4 linked regions of the Homo sapiens genome follow. The protein of the gene in region 4 interacts with the protein of the main gene of each other region in a pairwise test. Each region holds a gene or a part of one and is shown on either strand. Other genes may lie near its edges. The genes, in order: CLDN9, CREB3L1, KCNN3 and ERMP1.

Evidence for each region.
Region 1: the proteins of ERMP1 (region 4) and CLDN9 interact in binary tests that used the Homo sapiens proteins (3 or more experiments, as listed by UniProt).
Region 2: the proteins of ERMP1 (region 4) and CREB3L1 interact in binary tests that used the Homo sapiens proteins (3 or more experiments, as listed by UniProt).
Region 3: the proteins of ERMP1 (region 4) and KCNN3 interact in binary tests that used the Homo sapiens proteins (3 or more experiments, as listed by UniProt).

Annotation. Positions count from the first base shown.
Region 1 is NC_000016.10:3,008,445-3,015,041, forward strand, and holds CLDN9 (claudin-9), read left to right. Parts: upstream 1-4,478; 5' UTR 4,479-4,918; coding exon 4,919-5,572; 3' UTR 5,573-6,061; downstream 6,062-6,597.
Region 2 is NC_000011.10:46,315,630-46,321,915, forward strand, and holds the end of CREB3L1 (cyclic AMP-responsive element-binding protein 3-like protein 1), read left to right. Parts: exon of another isoform or gene 1-656; coding exon 657-756; intron 757-1,731; coding exon 1,732-1,858; intron 1,859-4,634; coding exon 4,635-4,899; intron 4,900-5,080; coding exon 5,081-5,117; coding exon of another isoform or gene 5,118-5,268; 3' UTR 5,269-5,780; downstream 5,781-6,286.
Region 3 is NC_000001.11:154,769,265-154,776,302, forward strand, and holds part of KCNN3 (small conductance calcium-activated potassium channel protein 3), read right to left. Parts: intron 3,130-7,038; coding exon 2,711-3,129; intron 1-2,710. UniProt on the Homo sapiens protein: Small conductance calcium-activated potassium channel that mediates the voltage-independent transmembrane transfer of potassium across the cell membrane through a constitutive interaction with calmodulin which binds the intracellular calcium allowing its opening.
Region 4 is NC_000009.12:5,784,038-5,788,121, forward strand, and holds the end of ERMP1 (endoplasmic reticulum metallopeptidase 1), read right to left. Parts: intron 3,557-4,084; coding exon 3,393-3,556; intron 3,272-3,392; coding exon 3,107-3,271; 3' UTR 535-3,106; downstream 1-534. UniProt on the Homo sapiens protein: Within the ovary, required for the organization of somatic cells and oocytes into discrete follicular structures.

The sequences.
Region 1 (6,597 bases), on a different chromosome or scaffold from region 4:
TTTTCCCAGACGTGGTGGATGGGGGAGGGGACTTCGCTGGAGGTGTTAAAGTGCCATTGAGATGGTAACCACACCAAGGGGCCCCCACTTTTCCATATCAATGGCATTCCAGTCCCTGATTAGGCCCCAACCTTAACCCTTCCTTTCCCAAGATCCAACTGAATCCAGGTGCACGGGGGCCTAGGAGAGGGTCTAGGACCTCCCAACCTAGGTCTAGTGAGGGCTGAGGACAACAGGCTAATTGCTACCCATGTGTCCTGGGAATCCTCCCACCATGGGCAGCTCCCCAACCACCCTCTTCCAGCCTCTCCTAGGCTCCAAGATGTTTCTCCACTTTTACTCTCCCCAAGGGGCTTGGGGAGATACTGTGTTTTATCTTAGAGACTTGGGGTGGGAGGAGCCTGAAGCCGCACAGGGCCACTGTGAAGGCAAGTCCAGTGGGTTGGTCACTGAGGTGGGGGTGTGCGCATTTGCTGAGCAGCCTCCACCCACTCTGCTGGCTAGTCCCTGGAGTGTGGGCTTGCTTTCCTTCTTGCTCCGGTGTGGAGATGTTGGGCCAAAGAGGAATTGGGGTCTTAAAAACCTGGGGTCGGCTGGATGCGGTGGCTCACACCTCTAATCCTAGCAGTTTGGGAGGCCGAGGCAGGCAGATCACGAGATCAGGAGTTCGAGACCAGCCTGGCCAATATGGTGAAACCCCGTCTCTAATAAAAATACAAAAATTAGCCGGGTGTGTTGGCACATGTCTGTAGTTCCAGCTACTCGGGAGGCTGAGGCAGGAGAATCGCTTGAATCCAGCGGGCAGAGGTCGCAGTGAGCCGAGATCACATCACTGCACTCCAGCCTGGGCAACAGAGCGAGATTCCGTCTCAAAAAAACAAAACAAAACAAAACAAAACACAAACCTGGGGTCCCCGAGCAAGTGCGGTGGCGCTTGCCTGTAATCCCAGCACTTTGGAAGGCTGAGGCAGGCGGATCACCTGAGATCAGGAGTTCGCAGACCAGCCAGACCAACATGGTGAAACCCCGTCTCTGCTAAATACAAAAAAAGAAAAAAAATAGCCGGGTGTGGTGGCGCATGCCTGTAATCTCAGCTACTTGAGAGGCTGAGGCAGGAGAACAGCTTGAACCCAGGAGGCAGAGGTTGCAGTAAGCCGAGATTGTGCCATTGCACTCCAGCCTGGGCAACAAGCGCAAAACTCCGTCTCAAAACACAAACAAAAAAACCCCTGGGGTCCTCTTATGCCCTTTCCGGGCACAGCGCTCACTGGATGTGTGCAGCCCGCCACTGGGCTACAACGTAGGGGTTTAGAGCTGAATGTGGAACCGGTGAGTCACCGAGGCAGGGCCCGACAGCAAGTGGACCAGCCGTCCCGGTTTCCCTGGAGGACCCAATATTCAAGCTGGGAATGTCCCTCAAAAAAGTGGGATGAGCCGATCACCTTAGGCCCTAGGACAAGGAGGACTTGTTCCGGCCCAGGGAAGAGAATAGCCCCTGGGTTGGGGCTGCTGGGTGGGGGGACTTCCAGGGAGGCAGGCTTGCTGCTGCCTCCTGACAGCTGCCCAAACCTGTGTGGCTGGATTCCTGGAGGCCCCTGGAAGGCTGCGAGGGAGCCCGCTGACCGGCTTGCCTCCGTCTGCAATCTCTGCTCTCCCCACCCCAACCCTGTGAAATCTGAGCCCCAGGGGCTGGGTGAGCTGGACAAACCTGCCACAAGATTCCCTGAGTCCACTGATGGCCATTTTCCAGCCTCTGTATCACCCCCCCATCTTCCAGACTCTGTGGGGCCACCAGGTCAGCCCCCCTCGTACCGGAGGAGCCCCCCTCAGTGGAGAGGCCCAGGGGGTGGTGAAGAGGAGGCCAGGCTTCTGTTTACCTTACAGACCAGCTGATTGGCGCTGGCCTGTCTCTGTGTTTGCAGGGGAGGATCTTAAGCTGTTTTGGGTCAAGGCCCCTTTGCAAATCTGAAGGAAAGTATAAATCTCTCTTCCAAAAGTATCATTTTTTTTAAGAGACAGGGTCTCACCTAGGATGGAGTGCGGTGGCATAATCATAGCTCACTGCAGACTCTAACTCCTAGGCTCAAGAGATCCTCCTACCTCAGCCTCCCGAGTAGCTGGGACTACAGACAGGAACCACCTAACTCAGCTAATTTTTGTGTATATATATATATATATATTTTTTTTTTATTTTAGAAATGGGGTCTCACTGTGTTGCCCAGGTGGGTCTCAAGCTCCTGGCCTTAAGCAATCCTCCCACCTTGGCCTCTTAAGCGCTGGGATTACAGGCGTGAGCCTCAGTGCCCGGACCCAAAAGATGCTAAAACCCTTTCGCAGAAGCGATGCTCATACCCCTAGGTTTGAACCCTGACCGCTCCTTGAGGTTAGAGCCCTTTATACACAATGTCCCACCCACTAGGTGAGGGGCACTGAGCAGGGGTGTGCCTGGCCACTGGCTCCCCGAAGGCAATGCCGTGAAGTGGTGCAGCCACCAGATGTGTGTGGTGGGCACCTCCAGCCCTGCCCGCACTGGCCAGTGGGCTCCAGCACACCCCAGCCCTCCCAGCACCAGGCAGGTGAGAGGCAGTCCCAGGTGAGGGCCCACTCTGAGGATCCTCTGTACCTCCCTGGAAAGTGTATGAATGGAGACAATGTTCCTCACATCCCTTTTCCTTTTTTTTTTTTTTTTTTTTTGAGACAGAGTCTCCCACTGTCACCCAGGCTGGAATGCAGTGGTGCGATCTCGGCTCACTGCAACCTCTGCCTCCGGTTCAAGCGATTCTTCTGCCTCAGCCTCCCAAGTAGCTGGGATTACAGGCACCCGCCACCACGCCCAGCTAATTTTTTTTTTTTTTTTTTTTGAGGAGTCTCTCTCTGTCGCCAGGCTGGAGTGGAGTGGAGTGGTACGATCTTGGCTCACTGCAACCTCTACCTCCCGGTTTCAAGTGATTCTCTTGCCTCAGCCTCCAGAGTGGCGAGTGGCTGGGACTAGAGGCTTGTGCCACCACGCCCAGCTAATTTTTGTATTTTTAGTAGAGACGGGGTTTCACCATGTTGGCCAGGATGGTCTCGATCTCTTAACCTTCCGATTTACCTGCTTCGGCCTCCCAAAGTGCTGGGATATCTAATTTTTTGTATTTTTAGTAGAGACGGGGTTTCACCATGTTGGCCAGGCTGGTCTCGAACTCCTGACCTCGTGAATCGCCCACCTTGGCCTCCCAAAGTGTTGGGATTACAGGCGTGAGCCACCGCACCTGGCCGTCACACCCCTTTTTCAGACAACAATCCTCAGAGGTTCTTAGCACCCAGGCAGGGGCTTGAAGGAGTTCATGAACCCTCCCCCACAAATGAGGGGCACATGTTTGTGGGTGCATGTTCTGTGAGTCCCACGGGGTTTCTCAAGTGGGTCTTTGACCAAAGGAGGTTAAGGACCTCGACCTTCCATGACCTGTCCCAGGTAGGGGTCAGGATTTGAGCTTTGGTCAGTGGGACTCCCAGGCTGTCCCCATGAGTGGAATCACAGGCTCTGAGGGGGTTTTTCCGGAGGTAAGGCTTTCCTGCAAACTGGAAGGCAGGTCTTGGGGACACTTGAGTCCCTGGACTTAACCCCCGTGCCCACCTCTGGGGTGTTTTGGCCCGGGAGGCCTGACTGGCCACTCACTCACCCACCCATGGAACATAACCGGGTCCTGGGCTGTGCCCCACCCTGGGTTCCAGCCCCAGCCCGTCCCGCCTCCATCCCCCTTCCTGAGTGCCCCCCAACCTCCACAACAGGCCCCTCATCCTCTGGCCTCTGGAGATCTTAGGCAGCTCAGCTCAGCCTCGGTTTCAGCAGCAGGGGTGGCAAGAGCGCACCTGAGCTGAGGTTGAAGTGGGGGGTAGTTTTCTAGGCCGTTGCCAGGGCGATGCCACCTGAGCTGGGCGCCAGGCACCTGTCGTCTGGGGAACAGTGCAGGCGGGGACCTTCCCCCGGGAGCTAGCGGGGCCACTGGGCTGAGACGGGGGATGGATCAGATTCCAGAGAGTCCCAGGCGGGCGGGAGTGTGCGATACTCGGGGAGCTGGGGCATGTTTGCATCACGAAACTCGGCTGGGGGAGAGCAGAGGCAGCTGGGGAGGGGCTGCGGAAGGAGGAGGCTCAGGAAGGCAAGCCGACGCCCCCTGTGTGTGTTTCTGTCCTGAGCCTGTTACTTTTTTGACCCCCGATCCGTCTCTTCTTCCTCAGCTTGTCCTCCATCTTCCCCTCCTTTACCCTTGGTTCCCACATGCACAGATGCTACGGACGCTTTTCCTCCCCTGTCCCCACTCAGCCGCAGCATCCCCCGCTGGCCCCCAGGCCCCTCATCCATCCGCTGCCCACGAACCCCCAGCCCCGCACCCTCCCCGTGGCTCAGGTCTCCCCTATCCCGGCCTCCCTGCACTTCACTCTGCTCCTCCCCTGCCTGGGCCTTAAAACCCCGCCTGCAGCCGAGAGCCCGCAGAGTCCCCAGGTGGCACTGTCAGAGTCGCTCAGTGGGAACCTGCGCCAGCCGGCAGGAGACGTGGCTGTCCTCAGCCTGGCAGTGCGTCTGGAGGGCCTGTGCGAGCTCAGCCCAGGTGTGACAGCGGGGTGGTAAGAGCAGCAGCACCCTCAGGGCATCCGATGGGCGGAGGCCCCTCGAGGTGACACCCACCACTCAGCCGAGCGGGACTACGAGTCTGCTTTGTGCTCCGCGAGGACCAGAAACACCTGCAAGAGGCACGGAGAGGAGGCGCCTTTCAAGAGGCGCCTTTCATGGAACTGAGGACTGGCCTGGCTTGGGGACACCAACAAGCCTTCCCCCTCCTGCTGGACACAGAGACACCCACCCAGCACACCAGACACACCCTCTGAGTCACCTAGGCCGCCTGGGGCTGAGAAGACCTAACCGAGGGGCCAGATGGCTTCGACCGGCTTAGAACTGCTGGGCATGACCCTGGCTGTGCTGGGCTGGCTGGGGACCCTGGTGTCCTGCGCCCTGCCCCTGTGGAAGGTGACCGCCTTCATCGGCAACAGCATCGTGGTGGCCCAGGTGGTGTGGGAGGGCCTGTGGATGTCCTGCGTGGTGCAGAGCACGGGCCAGATGCAGTGCAAGGTGTACGACTCACTGCTGGCTCTGCCGCAGGACCTGCAGGCCGCACGTGCCCTCTGTGTCATTGCCCTCCTGCTGGCCCTGCTTGGCCTCCTGGTGGCCATCACAGGTGCCCAGTGTACCACGTGTGTGGAGGACGAAGGTGCCAAGGCCCGTATCGTGCTCACCGCGGGGGTCATCCTCCTCCTCGCCGGCATCCTGGTGCTCATCCCTGTGTGCTGGACGGCGCACGCCATCATCCAGGACTTCTACAACCCCCTGGTGGCTGAGGCCCTCAAGCGGGAGCTGGGGGCCTCCCTCTACCTGGGCTGGGCGGCGGCTGCACTGCTTATGCTGGGCGGGGGGCTCCTCTGCTGCACGTGCCCCCCGCCCCAGGTCGAGCGGCCCCGCGGACCTCGGCTGGGCTACTCCATCCCCTCCCGCTCGGGTGCATCTGGACTGGACAAGAGGGACTACGTGTGAGGCGGAGGTTTCCCCTGGGAGCCCACTGCTCCCCACTGCCCCGCCCTTTCGACCTTGGCCTGATGACCAGATGCCCTGCTCCATCACAACCTCCTTCCCCAGGAAAACCCACTTTCCAAAAGCCCAAGCTACACCTGGCTGCAGGGCTGGGTCAGCTGGCCTGGCTGAGCTCTTCTCAGTGGGGTCCCCTTTGATGTTCTCCCCCAAGTTGGGCAGCCTAGAGGTGTTGGGAACCCTGGCCTGCCCCCACCTCCCCAGTAATTGTTTCCTTCCGTTGCCCAGGACACTGGCTGGCCTTCCTTCTCTTCTGAGCCCTCCCCTGCCCCAGGAACCCTGGCCTCACCAAAACAGCAGCAGCTCGTTGGCTCCAAAACCAGGGAGCAGACCATGCCCTCCCAACCCTGGAGTTGTCAGGGAGGGCCTGCCCATCACCTCCCTCTCCCCAACATCCCCACCCTCGAGTTGGAAATAAAGAGCATTTGTAACTGGGCTCCCTCTAATCTGTGCGCCGCCGCTGGGGCTGGGCAGGCACAGCCAGGTGGCCTCCCTTGGTGGCTGTCAGGCCAAGGTCTGGCTCTAGGTTCTGCCTGGTGGGTATGCTCACTCAAGCCACGGGGAGAGGGGATCGTGACTCACTTATGCCCATCTCTTCCCCTAGCCAGGGTGGGCACTCAGTAACCCGCTGCAACACCAAATGCACTAACAAAACATGCTTTATTTGATAAAAATGTGAGTGTAAAGGGGGTGAGACGAGGGGGGCAGGGCAGAAGGGTGCAGTGTTGGAGGTGGGGGCGGGGGTCTACATAGCTGGGACCTGGCCCTGGGGGGTGGACGTCTTATCAGGACGGAGGAAACAGAGGTCAGAAGTTCCGGAGGTGGGCAGTCCTTTGTTAACAGATCATTTGTTTTTCCAGGGGTGAAGAGAGGAGCTCCAGAGACCTGAGTAGGATGGGGGGCAGCTGTCCAGTGACATCTAGGGAAGCCCAGCCCCCAGCAGCAGCAGGAACTCTTGGGGACAGTCTGTC
Region 2 (6,286 bases), on a different chromosome or scaffold from region 4:
CAGACAAGCCTGGCAAAACCCCGTCTCTACTAAAAATACAAAAATTAGCCGGCATGGTGGCGCACGCCTGTAGTCTCAGCTAGTCAGGAGGCTAAGGCAGGAGAATCACTTGAACCTCGGAGGCGGAGGTTGCAGTGAGTCGCAAACGCACCACTGCACTCCAGCCTGGGTGAAAGAGCGAGACTCTGTCTCAAAACAAAACAAAACAAAAAACCTAACAAAAACAATAGCTACCATTTACTAGACACTCACTACATACCAGGCACTGTGCCAAACAGCTCCTTCTTATCAGCTCAGGGTGCTGGGGGTGCCAGGGAGGGAAGGTCAGTGAAACTGTGGCAGGTGTCGGTTAAGCAAAAGAAGGCTGGCATCTGTGCAGCTGGGGGCAGGCCTTCCCTCCTCCAACCCCCTTGGCCAGGAGCATCACAGGGCAGGCCTGAGCTTCCACAAGGTGACCCAGCCAGTCACCATGAGGCAGGCCCCAGGCGCCAGGCCACTCTGCAGAGGAGCCACGCAGGAGGTGACCTTTCCTATCTTGACTGAAACGGGCACCTGGCGTGGAGGCCAAGTCTGGAGCCAGCCCCCTAGGAGAGCTCCAGGAGGCAGAGATGCCTGCGGGGTCAAAGCCTGCCAGCTGACTGCTGTGCCCTCCTCAGGACCCTGCTCCAGCAGCTGCAGAAACTCCAGACTCTGGTCACCAACAAGATCTCCAGACCTTACAAGATGGCCGCCACCCAGACTGGGACCTGCCTCATGGTAGGTGTGGCTCCCTCCACCACAGACCCACAGGAGGAGAGTTCTTCCCAAGGCTGGCTTTTTCCAGGGTTGGGCAGAGCTTTAAGGATCGGTAACATCGTGGGCAGCGTCCCAGGGTACACCATCCTGGCGCCTGGTGGGCTGGTTCTAGCAGACTCCAGACTCCTTCTCCAAGCCCATGGTGCCTTCTGCCTCACACCGGTCCCCGACTGGTTAACACAGTGTAGATGTGTAGGTGACTCCAGTGGCCCCAGCTAGGGGACAGCTGGGCAGGTTCCTTGAGGAGGCGGCTTCCACAGGCCTTGTGCAGGGAAGGGCTTGGGGAGACTCAGGGAAGAACGGACATGGTTCTTTCTGGAACAGATGGCAGTGAAAAGGCTGAGGAAACCCCTGGAAACCCGGAAGGCTCCCAGGGCGTGTTTCAGACCTCTTCCAGTCCCTCTTCTATCTTCTTCTGGAAATGGCCAGTCTCTTGCCGCCTGGCTCAGCATGCCCCGGCCCTCCGAGACCCTCGAGCTGTCAGGCAGCAGAACCAGGCTATGGGCAGGGGTAGTGTGGGCTCCGTGGCTCTCAGCACCTCCCGCTAGCCAGGCTCCTCAGAATCCTGCTGAGAACGTGATGTGGCGGTGTGTCCCCCTCCCTCGTCCCAGCCCCAAGCCCCACCTGCACCTATTCCTTCCTTTCCTGATTCCTCTACCCCGTAAGGGGACTCCACATTGGCCACTTCCCTCTTACTTCTAGCACTGCCTGTGGCGACCCCCCTACAATGGGCTGGGATGGCCTGGGCTGTCCCTGCCTTCCCCAGAGAGGATAGGAGACCCCACATGTAGGAGGGAGTGGTCGACTGGAGCAGCTGCTTCCTTGGGAAAACGCTAAGACTTTTGTGCCTGTTGGTTTGGGAGAGGAGGAGTGGGGTGGTCAGGGCCGTGGCCCCTCCTTACCCCAGATCTGATGCCACTCTCTCTTTGCTACCAGGTGGCAGCCTTGTGCTTTGTTCTGGTGCTGGGCTCCCTCGTGCCCTGCCTTCCCGAGTTCTCCTCCGGCTCCCAGACTGTGAAGGAAGACCCCCTGGCCGCAGACGGCGTCTACACGGCCAGCCAGAGTGAGTGCCCGCCTGTCATGCCAGCTCCCTGGGCTGAGGCTGCCCTGCCCCAGCCCCAGTGTCCAGGCAGAAGCCAGACATAAGAGAGAAGCCAAGTGTGGGGTCAGCATTATCTCATTTTGCCTCATTTTCCAGATGGGGAAACCGAGGCCCAAAGAGAGTCTATGCTTTGCTCAGTGTTTGTGGTAGAATTGGGACTAAAATACAGAGCTCCCGATGCCCAGCCTAGCTCCCAGAGAGCTCAGGAGTGGCTTGCAGGAGGTGGGTTTAGGGGATAACAGGAATGTTCCAGCCCTGGGCCCCATGCATTATGGTGCCAGTGCTTATGGGGCATCTGCTAGGCACCATCAGTATCTCATGATAGGGACAGCAAGTGAGTTTCAGCTCAAAAGCCATTTCCAATAAGGTGGTGGTAGCTGCCTGAAACACTGAGTTAAGAAGGACCCTGGGCCGGGCGCGGTGGCTCATGCCTGTAATCCCAGCACTTTGGGAGGCCGAGGCGGTGGATCACCTGAGGTCAGGAGTTCGACGCCAGCCTGGCCAGCATGGTGAAACCTCGTCTCTACTAAAAATACAAAACTTATCTGGGCATGGTGGCATGTGCCTGTAGTCCCGGCTACTTGAGAGGGGTGAGACAGGAGAATCACTTGAAACTGGGAGGCAGAAGTTGCAGTGAACCAAGATCACGCCACTGCAGTCCAGCCTGGGTGACAGAGTGAGACTCCATCTCAAAAAAAAAAGAAGGATCCTGAGGCACCATTCAGAATTGACAGGAAGGAGTGTCATGATCCACTGATAATGTCTACCATGGACAGAAGAAGGGTAGCGGTGGTGTGGGTTCAGATATCTACTGTTTCCAAGGGGGATAGTAAACGTACAGTGGTTAGGAGCATGGGGATGTCAAGTCCATCGTAACTGGCACTGCCACCTGCTGTGTGACCAGGGGCATGTGTCTTAAGCTTTCATTTCTTCATCTAGAAAATGGGAGTGGCAATTTTGCACTTACTGAGCCATGGCTGTGAGACAGTGCATGAAATAGCACAGTGTCTGTGCTTATGAAATGAGCACACTCAGTCTCTTAGAGCTCACGGAGGAGAGAATAGCTACATCACAGTAGCTGGCAAAGGGAGAACCAGGGTAGGGCCCAGCAAAGAAGAGTGTGGATTTCAGACGCAGAGAATCCTTCAGGTGGACCCACAGAGGAACTTCCTGGCTGTCCCTCATCACTTACCAGTCAGTCACTTACCAAGAACCACGTGTCTGGCAGGACAGGAGGAGGAAGAGGAAACAGATGGGAGGTCAGAGGAGGGAAGATTAAGGAGTGAGTTTCAAGAAGGAGGGATATAGCAGGGAGGATGAGCTAGACGTTGAGGGCCTTGAGGGGAGGAAGCTGGTGTGGGGAGGGTTAGGGAAAGAGGAAGTAGAGACAGGGAGAGTGAAAGCTCCTCCCCGGACACGTGCAGGCTGAGGAGGAGAGAACGGGGTGGTCACTAAAGGCGGGTGGGCAGCAGCAATGCAAGGTCTGGAGAGCCATGTGTCTGCTTTTCCAAGGCCACAGAAGCCACTGGAGAAAAAGGAGTGGAAAGAGAGCTGGGGTTGATGGATAAAGCCACAGTGAGAGGAGGCAATGAATGAGCCCCTTGGAGGGAAGGCAGTGGGTTTTAGGCCCAGGACCTGGGCTGGGTGGAGAGGAAGACACATCCCAGCAGGCAGATGGCTTTGGAGCAGGCTGGTTTGCAGAGCTGGCGCACTGCGCAGTTCCAGGGACCTCTGTTCACACAGACTATGAGGTCATGGCTGCAGAGCCGGAGGGGCAGCAGATCCCAGGGCCAGGCAGACCTGGGTTCGCATCCTCCCTTCAGGGAGGACAATTTCCCTGAGTGCCTGGAACTTCAGCTGCCTCCTCTGGGAAGCGGGGCTAAAGAAACCTCATTCCCTAGAGTTTCTCTAAGATTTTAACCACTCTACTTAGGTCTATGGGCCTTGGATAATGCCTAACAAATGATGGGTGTCCAACAAATGTTTGTTTTCCTTCTCTGAAGGGCAAATTAGGATCTAGAATGGGGAAGAGACTTATTCCAGGTCTCACAGAAAGTAAGTGGTGGACTGGCCGGGTGCGGTAACTCACTCCGGTAATCTCAGCACTTTGGGAGGCCAAGGTGGGAGGATCACTTGAGGCCCAGGAGTTCAAGATCAGCCTGGCCAACATGGTGAAACCCCGTCTCTACTAAAAATACAAAAAGTAGCCAGGTATGGTGGCACACACCTGTAGTCCCAGCTACTCGGGAGGCTGAGGCAGGAGAGTCGCTTGAGCTCGGGAGGCGGAGATTGCAGGGAGTCAAGATCCTGCCATTGCACTCCAGCCTGGGCGACAGAGCAAGACTCTGTCTCAAAAAAAAAAAAAAGGGAGATAGAGCAAGTAAGTGGTGGAGGTTAGAACACAGCTCCCAGATGCCCAAACTCAGTACCCTCTGCTAGGAAGAGGTGACTTTTCTGAGTATTTCCTGAACACAGTTTCAATCACTTCCCCTGTATTACCTCATTTAAACCTCTCATTTACATGAGGTTGGTCCTAGTATCCCTATTTTACAGAAGAGCACACTGAGGCTCAGAAAGTTTAAAGCAAAGTGTGTGGCTTACCTGAGGTCACACATCCGGGAAGTGTCAGAGCTGGGACTCAGATCCAGGGCCTGCGTCCTTAACCACTAGGCCATGAATGTGGCCAGGATGTTGAGGGAATCTTGGGCACACCGCTCATCCTACACTCCCTCTCCAGTGCCCTCCCGAAGCCTCCTATTCTACGATGACGGGGCAGGCTTATGGGAAGATGGCCGCAGCACCCTGCTGCCCATGGAGCCCCCAGATGGCTGGGAAATCAACCCCGGGGGGCCGGCAGAGCAGCGGCCCCGGGACCACCTGCAGCATGATCACCTGGACAGCACCCACGAGACCACCAAGTACCTGAGTGAGGCCTGGCCTAAAGACGGTGGAAACGGCACCAGCCCCGACTTCTCCCACTCCAAGGAGTGGTTCCACGACAGGTGGGGTGTGTGGCCCCTTTCCCTCCTGAGGTCTCAGGCTCCACCTGCCTCCTGCCCACCCTTGGTCCCCACATTGGCCACACCCTCCCAAGGCCCCATCCCTACTTGGTCTAGATCCAGCTTGCAGAGGGTAAGAGGGTTCCTGCTGGACAGTCATCGCTGGCCTCTCTTCTCTCTCCAGGGATCTGGGCCCCAACACCACCATCAAACTCTCCTAGGCCATGCCAAGACCCAGGACATAGGACGGACCCCTGGTACCCAGAAGAGGAGTTCTTGCTCACTAACCCGGATCCGCCTCGTGCCCCTGCCTCCTGGAGCTTCCCATTCCAGGAGAAAAGGCTCCACTTCCCAGCCCTTCCTTGCCCCTGACATTTGGACTCTTCCCTTGGGCCGACCACTCTGTTCTCATTCTCCTTCCCACCAACATCCATCCGTCCTTCTCAGACAAACCACTCACTGGGTACCCCACCTCCTCTCTCATATGCCCAACACGACCACTGCCTCCCTGCCCCCACACCTGCACCCAAACAGACACATCAACGCACCCCACTCACAGACACCCCTTACCCCACCCCCACTGTACAGAGACCAAGAACAGAAATTGTTTGTAAATAATGAACCTTATTTTTTATTATTGCCAATCCCCTAAGATATTGTATTTTACAAATCTCCCTCTTCCCTTCGCCCCTCCCTTGTTTTATATTTTATGAAGTTAGTGCGGGCTTTGCTGCTCCCTGGCCCAGGAAAGAGGGACTACCTGACCCTCACCTGGCACCCCCCTGCTGCTGCCCAAGCCGCTGGGCCTTTTTAATTGCCAAACTGCTCTCTTCATCAGCTCAGCACATGCTTTAAGAAAGCAAAACCAAAAAAAAAAAAAAAAAGATGCAGCATCAACTCCTGACTTTGTGCCTTTCTTCATTGGAGGGGAGGGAAAGTAGAACCAAAGGGCAGGGGAACAACAAGGGTAGGTTGATTTTATGTTCTGGCAGGGGGTGTGGGGGTATAGGAGTATGAGAAGGCATTTTTTTTTTTTTGTAGAGGTAGGGTCTCGCTATGTTGCCCAGGCTGGTCTCAGACTCCTGGGCTCAGTCTGCCCACCATGGCCTCCCACAGTGCTGGGATTACAGGCGTGAGCCACCATGCCCAGCCTGTTCACTTTTTATTTTCCAATATTTTGTTGACTGATTTGTTATTTCCTCTTCTGTCTTTGGGCTTTATTTATAGCTTTTATATGTGTATGCTTTTATTTGAGGATTAGGAAGATAGTTTAGATAAATGTTTTTTATCTGCCTATTTAAGGAGAACCCCATGTATGTATGTATGTGTACATGAATGAATGACAAGATCTCGCTCTATTGCCCAAGTTGGAGTCCAGTGGTGCAATCAT
Region 3 (7,038 bases), on a different chromosome or scaffold from region 4:
GGGTGCAACAATAACATCCACCATGCTTTAATACACCTCATGTTATACCTAAGTCTTTGGTCAAATGGCCTTTTCGCAAGAGAAGGGAACTTTCAGAGAATTTCCGATTTGCTCATTGTTCCTCTGTGCCTTGGTCTTAGCGGGGGCTTGTGACCCATGTCTGCAGAGAGAGAGAGAGAGACCCAGTGGCCCACCAGGGACCAAACTAACCCAGCCTCAGCTTGGAAGCTATGGAAGGCCATGCAATATCAAATAAGGTGCATCATCTAAGTACTTTGCAAACTACATTCTTTAAAACAAGCTTATTTTCCAGTGAAAAATAGTCACCCCTTCTTGTGATAGGTTCAATAAACTACGAAACTCACTTGCAGGTACTTTGTTGCATGTTCAGCCATCTGAAATACATGCCAGAGAGCATCTGAGGAAGTGAAAGACTTCAAATAGCTTAAAGGGCTACGCAAATTCAATTACTATGTTAATAGACAACATGGCTTCCATCATTTAGAAAGGAAAACAGGAAGAGTATAGGCCCATGTATGGTACAAGTTGGGCTGTTCTAATTAAAAGAAGGCAGCACAAAATTCCCAAGAGTTATCAAGGGATCTGCACTATTATTATTAACTTTCACCATCATTGGATTGCAGTACATAGTGCATATATACACCTTGTTTGACTCTAACAATAAATCCTGTGTCCAGCTTTCAGATAAGAAAATTGAGGTCCAGAGAGGTGAAGCGACCAGCACAATGTTGCTCAGCTAACAGTACCATGAAGAGTTTGGGGTCGGAACCCAAGCACATGCTTTCTCCATTGGGGGAAGAGTGTCTGCTTACCAGAGAAGGCTCATGAAGCCCTGTGCAGTGTGGTCCCACTCAGAGCAGATGTTGCAATGTCAGCTGCTGAGTAATGGCGAGGTTCTGAATAGGTGAGCATGGTGTGTCCCTGGGGCTCTGTGTGTGAGAAAGGTCTTCCAACACTGCACTGGCTCTCAGAACCTGAACCTGCATCCTGGAGCCTGAACCCTTGTTCTGCGGCAGCAGAATGCCCTCTCAGTTTGACCGTGTGTCTGTTGGCCAAAACGCTGAAAGAAATGTCTGCAAACAGAATGTCTCAAAAATAGGTAGGAGATACGATTCAAGGCACCCATGTAGGGTGTGTTGAGGCTAACTCCTCTCCAGACTTCTTTGTCTTGTTTGATCTCTGCTAGGACACTGGTGCATGGAAGATTTGGCAATATAATCGTAAGTGTTGACAAATTAAGGGCGACTACCAGGATTTGTGTAAATTACACAGGATGCTTCACCATACCTCCCAACATAATAAAAATAATCTATCTCAAGCAAACATAGCTTCATTCTATCTCAAGTGATCCTCATTTTAAAATGAGGAAACTGTAGCCCAGAGAGGTTAAGTAACTTGCCCTAGGTCTCACAGCTACTTAGGAGCAGAATCACGGTTTCTAACCTAGATTTAGACTCCACATGTCAAATAGATTAAAATGAATATCCAGGGCTGGGTGCAGTGGCTCACGCCTGTAATCCCAGAATTTTGGGAGGCCAAGGTAGGAGGATCACTTGAAGCCAGGAGTTCAAGACCAGCCTGGCCAACATGGTGAAACCCCATCTCTACTAAAAACACAAAAATTAGCCTGGTATGGTGGCGCATGCCTGTAATCTCAGCTACATGGGAGGCTGAGGCAGGAGAATTGCTTGAACACAGGAGGCAGAGGTTGCAGTGAGCAGAGACTATGCCACTGCACTCCAGCCTGGGCGAGAGAGCGAGACTCCATCTCAGATAAATAAATAAATAAATAAATAAATAAATAAATAAATAAATAAATAAATAAAATGAAAATCCAGGACCCCTTGCAAGGAGAAGAGTCATTAAAGGCAGCTCGAGGGTGGTGGAAGGAGGTGGCTTCAGTCCTGCCCTTGAGCCTTGTTGATGGCTGTTCCAAGGAGTTGGCATTTTGTTCTACAGCCCTGGATCTCTGTCAGGCCACATCTCCCTTCTTTCCCATGAGTAGCTTCTCTGAATGACTCCCAACCACCAGCCTCCTAAAACAATGTTTCCCAAAGTATGTTCCATCAGTACAGTGCTTCTCAAACTAAGGTGCATATGAATCACCAGGTGACCTTGTTAAATGCAAATTCTGATTCATTCATTCTGGGCTAAGGCCTGAGATTCTGGGAACTCTAACAAGTTCCCAGTGATGCCAGTGCTGCTGGTCTGTGAACCAAACTTTGAGTAGCAAGGTACCAATAGTGCTTTATAATAAAAAGGATTTGCAGGCAAATACAATTAAGAAAGGCTGAACCAAACAAAAATAAATGGTTTCATTACTTCAGGACTTCTCAGAGCCTTTAAAATGCTAATAAGCATTATTAATACCCAAGAGGAGTAAGTTGCAATGTGTTATATGTGAGTTACTGATGTAACCAGAATGCTTTGATATATTGGTTTGCAAAGAAGGAACAGAAAATCAGGAAAATTCTGTGCCTTTTTCCCACCTTACTTTGGTTCCAATGCTGCAATTCTAGCTCATACTGAACCCCAACTCAGCACTCCCCTCTTTCCCATTGTCTCCTTTCAGGTGTCTGGGTACATGCCTGTCTCCTCCATCAGACCACATACTTCCTGGCACCCCTACTCCTCCTCCCTTCCCTGTCCCAGCACAGGCTCTGTACTCAGAAAGCCCCATGTGGAATACCTTTCACAGACACGGACGGTCCAGGCAGCAATGATCCACAGAGAGATGCTGAACACGAGCAGCACAGTGCCAGGGCAGATGGTCATGAGCGTCTTCATGACAAAGCGGGTGTTGAAGTTGATCTTGTTGAGGGCCCCGATGCTGCGGGACGAGGCATCGGTGAAGAGCTTGCTGTGCAGCAGCATGACTCGGGCGATCAGGTACAGGCGCAGGAACATGGGGATAGACAGGATGATGTCCACATCGGCCTCCGCCCGGGAGGGTGTGTAGGAGAAGGCCAGGCGTGCCGTCCAGAAGAACTTGTACTCGCCAGGAATGGGGTGGATGGCGCACACCAGCATCTCCAGGCTGATGTACAGGATGCGCTCGTAGGTCATGGCTATCCGCCAGTCATCCGCGCCATTGTCGATCACGAAGAGCTGGTGGGAGCAGAAAGTCCATTAGTGTGGCCAGGACCAGGAAGCCCACAGCAGGGTCCAGGCAGGACAGGTGGGGCAGGCTGGGGCAGGCTGCTGGGCTCAGGTCAGCCTGACCACCTCAGCATGCTCTTTAGGGGCCTTGCTATGTGGCAAGAGCCCTGTATGTGGAGTAGGGAGAGCTGGATTCAGTCTACCTGGGAAGCCCTGGCTAAGACACTTTGACTCTCTTGGCCTCACTTTCCTCCTCTGCAAATCGCTGCCTGAGATATAGTGATTTATAATAAGAAATAATGTACTTGGTCTTTATCCTGGTTTAGGCACAGTTCCCAAAACGCTCGGAATTTCCAAAGTGATAAGTGTCATTTGTATGCTAATGAGATGACTAGTGGCTGGGGTCGGTCGGGGTGGGGATCCAGGGTGGCCTCAGGATGGCGCTGGTTGCCAGGGGAACCAATCTGGTGATGAGAGGGTTGGAACTTTCAGCCCCACCCCACCACCTCCTGAGAAGGAAGAGGGGCCCGAAGGTTGAGTTGATCACCAATGGCCAATGATGTCATCAATTATGTCGGTGTAATGAAACCTCCACAAAATCCCAAAAAGACAGTGTTTTGTTTTGTTTTTTTAACTTTTATTTTAGGTTCAGGGGTACATGTGCAAGTTTGCTATATAGGTAAACTCGTGTTACAGAGATTTGTTGTGCAGATGATTTCGTCACCCAGGTACTATTGGGTACAGTACCCAATAGTTATTTTTTCTGATCCTCTCCCTCCCACTCTCCACCCTCAGTGTCTGTCGTTCCCCTCTTTGTGTTTCGATGAGCTTCCAGATAGCTGCACACATGGAGGTCCCTGGACACGTGGAGTGTTGCGTGCCCAGAGAGGGCATGGAAGCTCCACCCCTTCCCATGCGCCCTGCCCTTTGCTTCGCTCCCATATGGCTGCTCATCTGAATCCTTTGTAAGGTCCTTTATAATAAACCAGTAAATGTGTTTCCCTGAGTTCTGTGAGCTGCTCTAGAAAATTAATGAAAACCTGAGAAGGGCGTCCTGGGAATCCCTGATTTATAGCCACTTGGTCAGAGGCTCAGATAAAACAACCTGGGGCTGGTGACTAGCATCGGAAGTCAGGTAAATGTGGTGGGACTGAGCCCTCAACCTGTGGGAGCCAACACTAACTCCAGGCGGACAATCAGGCTTGAGTTATATTGCAGGACACTCAGCCAGTGTCCATTGGAGAATTGCTTGGTGTGTGGGAACCACCCCCTCCTTTTTGCTGACCACAAGTGTTCTATGTTGAGCCACTTCCCAAGGTCCCTTCCAGCACACAGGTGCCAAATTGGCTGTTTCACGATGGTGAGAAAGATCAACTCATTTATATTAGAAACACATCCCTGAGCCCCTGCCAGACCTGAGCTGAGCCCTGTAAGGGGATGTAAAGATGAAAAAGTCATGTTTCCTGCATGAGTGAACTCACAAGGGCTGGCACAGATTCCTTCTCCCCACTCAGAGAAGGGGGCAGCAAGTGTTTGCTGGCAGCACTGTGCTCTCAGACAGTGCAGTGAAGTGTTCACGGCACGGACTCTGGAGCCAGATTGCCTGATCCTAACACTACTGGCTCCATGATCCTGGGCAAATTACCGAACCACCCTGTGCCTCAGTTACCTCATCTGGGGATGATGATAATAACTGCTGCATAGAGGTCACTGTGAGGCTGCAGTGGGTTCGTATATGCAACATGCATGGAATCCTGCCTAGCACCCAGCACACTATGTAACTATTAGCTATTCTTATTTGTAGCATTATTAATGGATCTGGTCTCGGTCTTTCTGTAAAATGACAGTTGGGCTCAGTGATGTCTAAACTTCCTTCTGGCCCTAAACTTTCACGAAGATGCTTCCTGCTGTCACCTCATGAGGATGGCTGTTCTCACAAGAATTGACTGAGCACCTGCTGTGTGTCCAGCCTTTGTCTTCCGGTAAGTCCCACTGTGGAGTCCCACCATATTTGATGACTGTGAAAGGGACTTCACATCCTTCCCCTCTGGGGCCTCAGTCTTCATCTGAGACTGAAATGAGAAGCCTCTAAAGTCTCATCCAGCTCCGATGATTTGATTCTTGGAGGGTGAGGCCTGAGATCCGGGCATATGTTCGGTGTGGGCCTCCTGTGCAGGCACCTCACTTCTGGGAGGTAGTGGAATGTTTATCATCACACTATGCCCTCTCTTTACTGGGTCCTTGGCCCTCCAGCAGATCTGGCTGTTGCCTGTCCCAGCTCATCCACGAACACATCCCACTCAAGACTCCAGCCTCACATGCTGCCTGCTCCACCAACAGCCACAGAGAGCTGCTGCTCTCCAAAGCTGGTTATGATTGCCTTTAAGGAGGAGCTAGCAGGGTCCTGTGGCCTAACATGAGCTCAGGATGAAGGGTACCAGCATCAGCACCTCCTGGCTGGGAGAGCAGGCCATGCATGCATCCTGGGAAGGCCTGAGCTGCAAGGCCGGAAGAAACTAGGCTGGGTTAGGAGAAATTAATGTTGGGGCCAGGGTTGGGTGGAGGTTTTATTTAACCTGGAAATACACCCTCAGCACAGAAAGCGTAACAGAGAGACTGGATCAGCGTGGATTTGCGGGGGCTGGCTGAAAGCCGAGTGAAGCCTTCCTTTCCTCCCTTGCACAGGGAGATCAGGGAATGAGGAGCCCTTTATTCTGTCCACCCAACTGTCTCCTTGATGGTCTGGGCCAAAGGAAGCTTCTGCTCTGCTTCAAAGTTAGTCACCAAGCAGCTTTCTCACTCCACTTTGCTGCCTTCCTTACAGTTCAGCAAGAACTGAGGACCCAGGAGAGGACCTATGGTACCAGGCCTGGTGTGGTGTGGGCGGGCGATGCTTGCCTTGCTTTTAGCATCTACCTGTGATATGTTTCTGCAGCAAGGGGAACATTCCAGGCAATTCATGGGCCCTGAGAGGCACAGACAGGGGAGGCAGCACTAGGAGGCAAGTCTCTTACCTTGCCGAGCCTCAGTTTCTCTTTCTCCCTGCTCCGTACCCTTACAGAGCCATACTGGAGAGCAGAGGAGACAATGGATTGAAAGGGTTTAATAAACTACAAAGGATCATTTGTTCATTCATTCATTCATTCAACAAAAATGTGTTGATGGCCCTCTGAGCAGCCAGCCCCCCACCCACCCACCCATGAGGATCCTGAAGGGAAACTACAGGGCACTATGGGAGCAACTGGCTGAGAGGCTCACCTGGTGGCTCTAATCAGGGAGCTGTCATCTCTGAACAGGAGACAGTACCCAGCACAGCACCAGCTGGAGACTCACCCTCCTCCTTCCCCAGTGCAGCTGAGCCTGGGTTTTTCCAGACATAGGTTTTCCCCAGCAATTAGAAAGCCCTAATGGCTGCTCAAAGGGTTCCCTCTGCTTCTAACTGCCGCCCGACAGGCCAAGCCATGGCAACGTGACTGCCTGGCCAAACTCTTCAAATACAAAATTAAAACCATCTACTCCGTAATAAAGAATCGCATCTGGTTACTATAGTAACTGGGTTCACTCTGGGCAGGAATGGAAGCAACGAGTAACAGATTCCTTTGATTGCCTGATGAGGAGTGGGATTGTAAGTAAGAGCTGAAGGGGAGAATGCACCGGCAGCTCTGCCCAGCGAGACGGGAGGGTGCTGGTCCCCAGCTGCCTCTCAGGTGCCCCGCCTTGGTTGTGGCTTGCTGGTGCAGGGAAGGTGGGGGCCACATGGGGTAGTGGAGCTGGAGGTGGGAGAGCTAGCCTGAAGTCCCCCACATCCAGGTATTAGCCATGTGATCTCAGGCCGTGCGTGACTTCTCCGAGCTTGTTTCCACATCTCCAACAGGGGAACACTGACTGACCTTGGCCCTGCCTGCCTCCTGGGGTTAG
Region 4 (4,084 bases):
AAAAGAAGAAGAGGAGTATTAGGTTAGAAGTTGTTCAGCTGCTTCACCTTGCATTGAACTGTTCTGAGAGAATTCACTCAAAGTTTAAATAACTTGCACAGAGATCTCTGAACTCAAAGTTCATGCTCTATTTTGGTGAGTGGTGGTGCCCTTTCCTTCTGTGGAGATTAGAATAAGCAATGAGTCACTCTGGCTGAAAGGCAACTTCTTCCCTCCCTCCTACCCTTACTCCCAAATAAAAGAACGCCCTTTACCCTTTGCTATTTTTTTGCTAATGGGGATGATTTAAAACTCCTACATAGGTGAAGCTCAACATTTACCTAATAATTTCTGTGAAATTCAGAAGTACCATTTCATTCTAAGATAAAGGATTCTAACTGAAGTAAACATTTCCATGTTGAGTTCTTTGCTCACATGAGCCATCTAGGTCTTTTAACAGCAATTAAAAGGCTCTGTGGACATGGAATAACCCTTGAAAATATGGGGATACAGAAGAACACAGATCTGTTTTTCAGTTAAAAAGATACCAACCAGTATATTAAACAGTTTATTTCAGTAACATTGTAAGGCAACAATTAATCCTCAGTAAGTCAGCAAACCAGTGACAAGAAATTGACAAACACTCCTTCTACAGCTTCCTGAGACAGCAGGCTGGCTTGTGGCCCCCTGGGTGGTAACATCTTAAGGAATCCTATCATGTTTGTTTATATATGCTAAACTGTAAAAACAAACACTTCATGCGACAATCATTCTTAGGTCAAACACAAGAACGAACTATTTTGAAATCAATTCCTCACACTTTTTCCCTGAATATGCAGTACTGTACTACTAACATCTAATTCTGTAGAAAATAATGCATTTGTTAGTGACTTTGTTAGAGCTTGAAAAGACCCTTTTAGAAATTATTTAAATGATCACTCTTTAAAAATTTTTTTTAATCTCAGAATCTACTAATGTGACAGACAAACGGTATGCTTAACAGAGTCATAAATACTGTGTATAATTGCTTGACCATTTCTGGCATTTAAATGACCTCCCAGAATATTACACAAGCCCTGAGACTAGTGAGCATCTTACTACTGACCTTGTACAATACCAAAGCTTCATAATGCTAAAGAAAACCAAAACAAAAGACAATGGTTTACACAGGGAAATAACCCTAAGGCAATATGAAAACAGTCATAATTTATTACTGATAAAGAGTAAAGGCATCCTTCCCATAGAGGGGGGGAATTCACAGGGAACACTAATTATATCAGATGAACCACGGGGATAGAAAATAGGCCCATTTTTAAAATTCATTGAGAAATTATTACTTTTTCTCCACAACTGTGATTCTATACAAAATATAAACCCTGCAAACCTTATGTGCTACCTGACAGATAAAAGTAGCAGGAGCCAGACTCTTGAAGCACTTGAGACTGATTTCTACAAAGTCCAGGAAGAGCAATGATTCCAGTGTGCAGTGCTGATGCATGTGTGAGCCTAACATGTTATTCAGCTCTGGTTGCAGCCCCATCTACATGGGCCCAGTTAGTTTTTAGGGAGTCACAGATTAGGCAGGCAACGAGGGGCATGATTTAAAAAGCACATCATACACATGAGACAAGCAGCTTCAAGGACGTTTTCTCCGGCAATGCATACTTACTGTGCTCTTTCTATTCAGACAGATCCACAGACCACCTTTCAAGAGCATTCCTCTCTCATTTCCTCCATCACCCAAGATAAATCTAGCCACCCTTTTTTGTTAACTGTGCCTTTTCTTTCAACTTTTTGTCCTTGTTAAAACTCAAAATTTGTCCAACGTTTCACATTTCCTAATGATAAAAAGAAAGCTTGCACAGTTTACCATTGATCTCACCAATGCCCTCACTGCTGGAACCAAAAAGCCATGAGAGGTACTGCTGTGATACACCTTACAAGCTACATAGCCATCTTCAAAATGAAAACCACCTTTTAAGTCCTCATGCTGCCATTACGCAGGATCTGAACCACCTACACGTACAGTGGTCTCATTCCAGTATAAGCCACAACCTCAAGTCTCAGGAAAGCCAGTCTGCTGGATAGTAAGTTACTGAGAAAAACTAATCTATTCAACTGGCTGGAAAACAAAAAGATAGGCCCAGTGCATCAGTAAGATTATACCATGAAGGACTAACCTTGTATAACACAAGACTCCTATGAAACAAAGAAAAGAGAATAAATATTTATAAAATTCCCACCACTCCCAGCCTTCCTTCTACCCCAGAATAGCCCAGATGGCAGCTCAGTGCTCTGAGGAAGGAAGTTAAGGTCATGTACTGGCACAAACAATATTCTGAACCAAAAGAACCTACGAAAACCAGAGGGGTATGTGGCCAAATATTCCCCTTTTCAACTTGGTAAGATGGAGAGGGGTAACAGACATGTTTCAGAGGAAAACAGGCATAGAAAACCACCTCAGGAAAGCAGCACAGCAGTGCATCTGTGTGTCCACTTGTCAGGACAGTGAGTCACCAGCTCAGCACAGGGTCCAGGCCTCAGCACAGAGAGACAAAGCACATTTGAGAGGCTGCCTGAAGAAACAGCTTGACACAGGCTACAGCCTCAAGAGTGCAATGCTTCTCTCCCAGCCCTATGGCAATCACTTTCCAGTGACCTACACAGAGTTATATTCTCAAGGGGAATCATTACCTCAGTGAATGATATTTTACCCACCATCCACTAATACAACAAATGGTTTTGGGGCTTAAATTGGAAACAACTTTTGTCTCATTAACAATGCTCTGACAGTGTACATCTTTCTTGATCCTAAAGGGGCAGCTATTGAAGTGGATTGTTGGCTTTGTCCTTAAGGTCATATAAAATGACGTGTGTGTAGTGGCAGTACCCACATGTGCTGAAGTGCCAAAAGACTGGCATTTTCAAGTGTCAACAGGCCATGCATCACTGCGCCACAGCTAAACCCTTATAGTGCTTGGCCCTGAAAAGCGTTAACCCAGAAAGCTCTTTGAACATATGATCATTAAAATTCATTGACTTACGTTACAAACATCCACGTAACATAGGGAGAAACCATGTCACATGGAGTATCCACTGGGCATGTACTTAGAGCTCATCCACAAGATTAAAATACAAAGAGATCGTAGGTGCACACCCAGGCAGAGGGAAATGTCCAATCTGGGAACTTTTCCTTCAGAGCATCCAGTTGAGGGGATCTCTTGTCTTCCCCAGACAGATAGTGGGCAGCAATGGCCACGGTGACCATTCCTTCAGGATGTTCTTCTGAAACCTGCCAGAGAAAATCAATTAGTTCTCCAGTTCTCAGAAGCCAGAATACTGAACCCAAGGTTCTTGCTAAATACCACCTGGGAACCTAATCAATGAAACAAACAATGCTGGGAAATTGGCACCTGCACTTCTATCCAGAACTGCCATGCAGAGGCCTGGAGTCCATGGGAGTAAAAGACAAAGTAGTCTCCTCCTTTACTTGTGACTGGGGTGCCATTGCCAAGAGACCACTGAGAAAGTGTTGACCCTTTGTGGGCTCGAACATAGAAGGACATATGGCTTGGTCCTGTAAGGTAAAAGGAAGAAAGAACAGTTAATCTTTTTAAAAGGATCAAAAAAATAACCCACAATCCAAACCAGACTTCATAAAGGTTCATGCCTGCATGACTTTAAATATACTTACTATAAACCTAATGGAGGTTTACCAGTTTGGACACTTAGTGTGAATCAACAAGGTTAAATAATGAGGTACAGGAGAAAAGGCACAGACTGTAAATGAGAAAGCCTGTGTTAAGTTGGTCCTATCACTTAACTGCTGCATGACATCAGGAATTTAATCTATGTCACAATTTCTTCATTGAGGGGATTATATTAGAAAAAGCATATGAAAGTGTTGGCAAAACTGCGAAGTGCTGTAACAGTACTGAATAGGACTGCCATTATGAATGGAGTTGTAATTTTCAGAGTTGATCATGTAACACCTTAAAATATGTTTTACTAGTTTTTCCCTTCAAGCTGGAAAATATTAGCTCAGTTCTGAAAATTTAGTCATCACTGGGAACTTCCAAGGAAACTGATGACAGTGGAAGTCAAA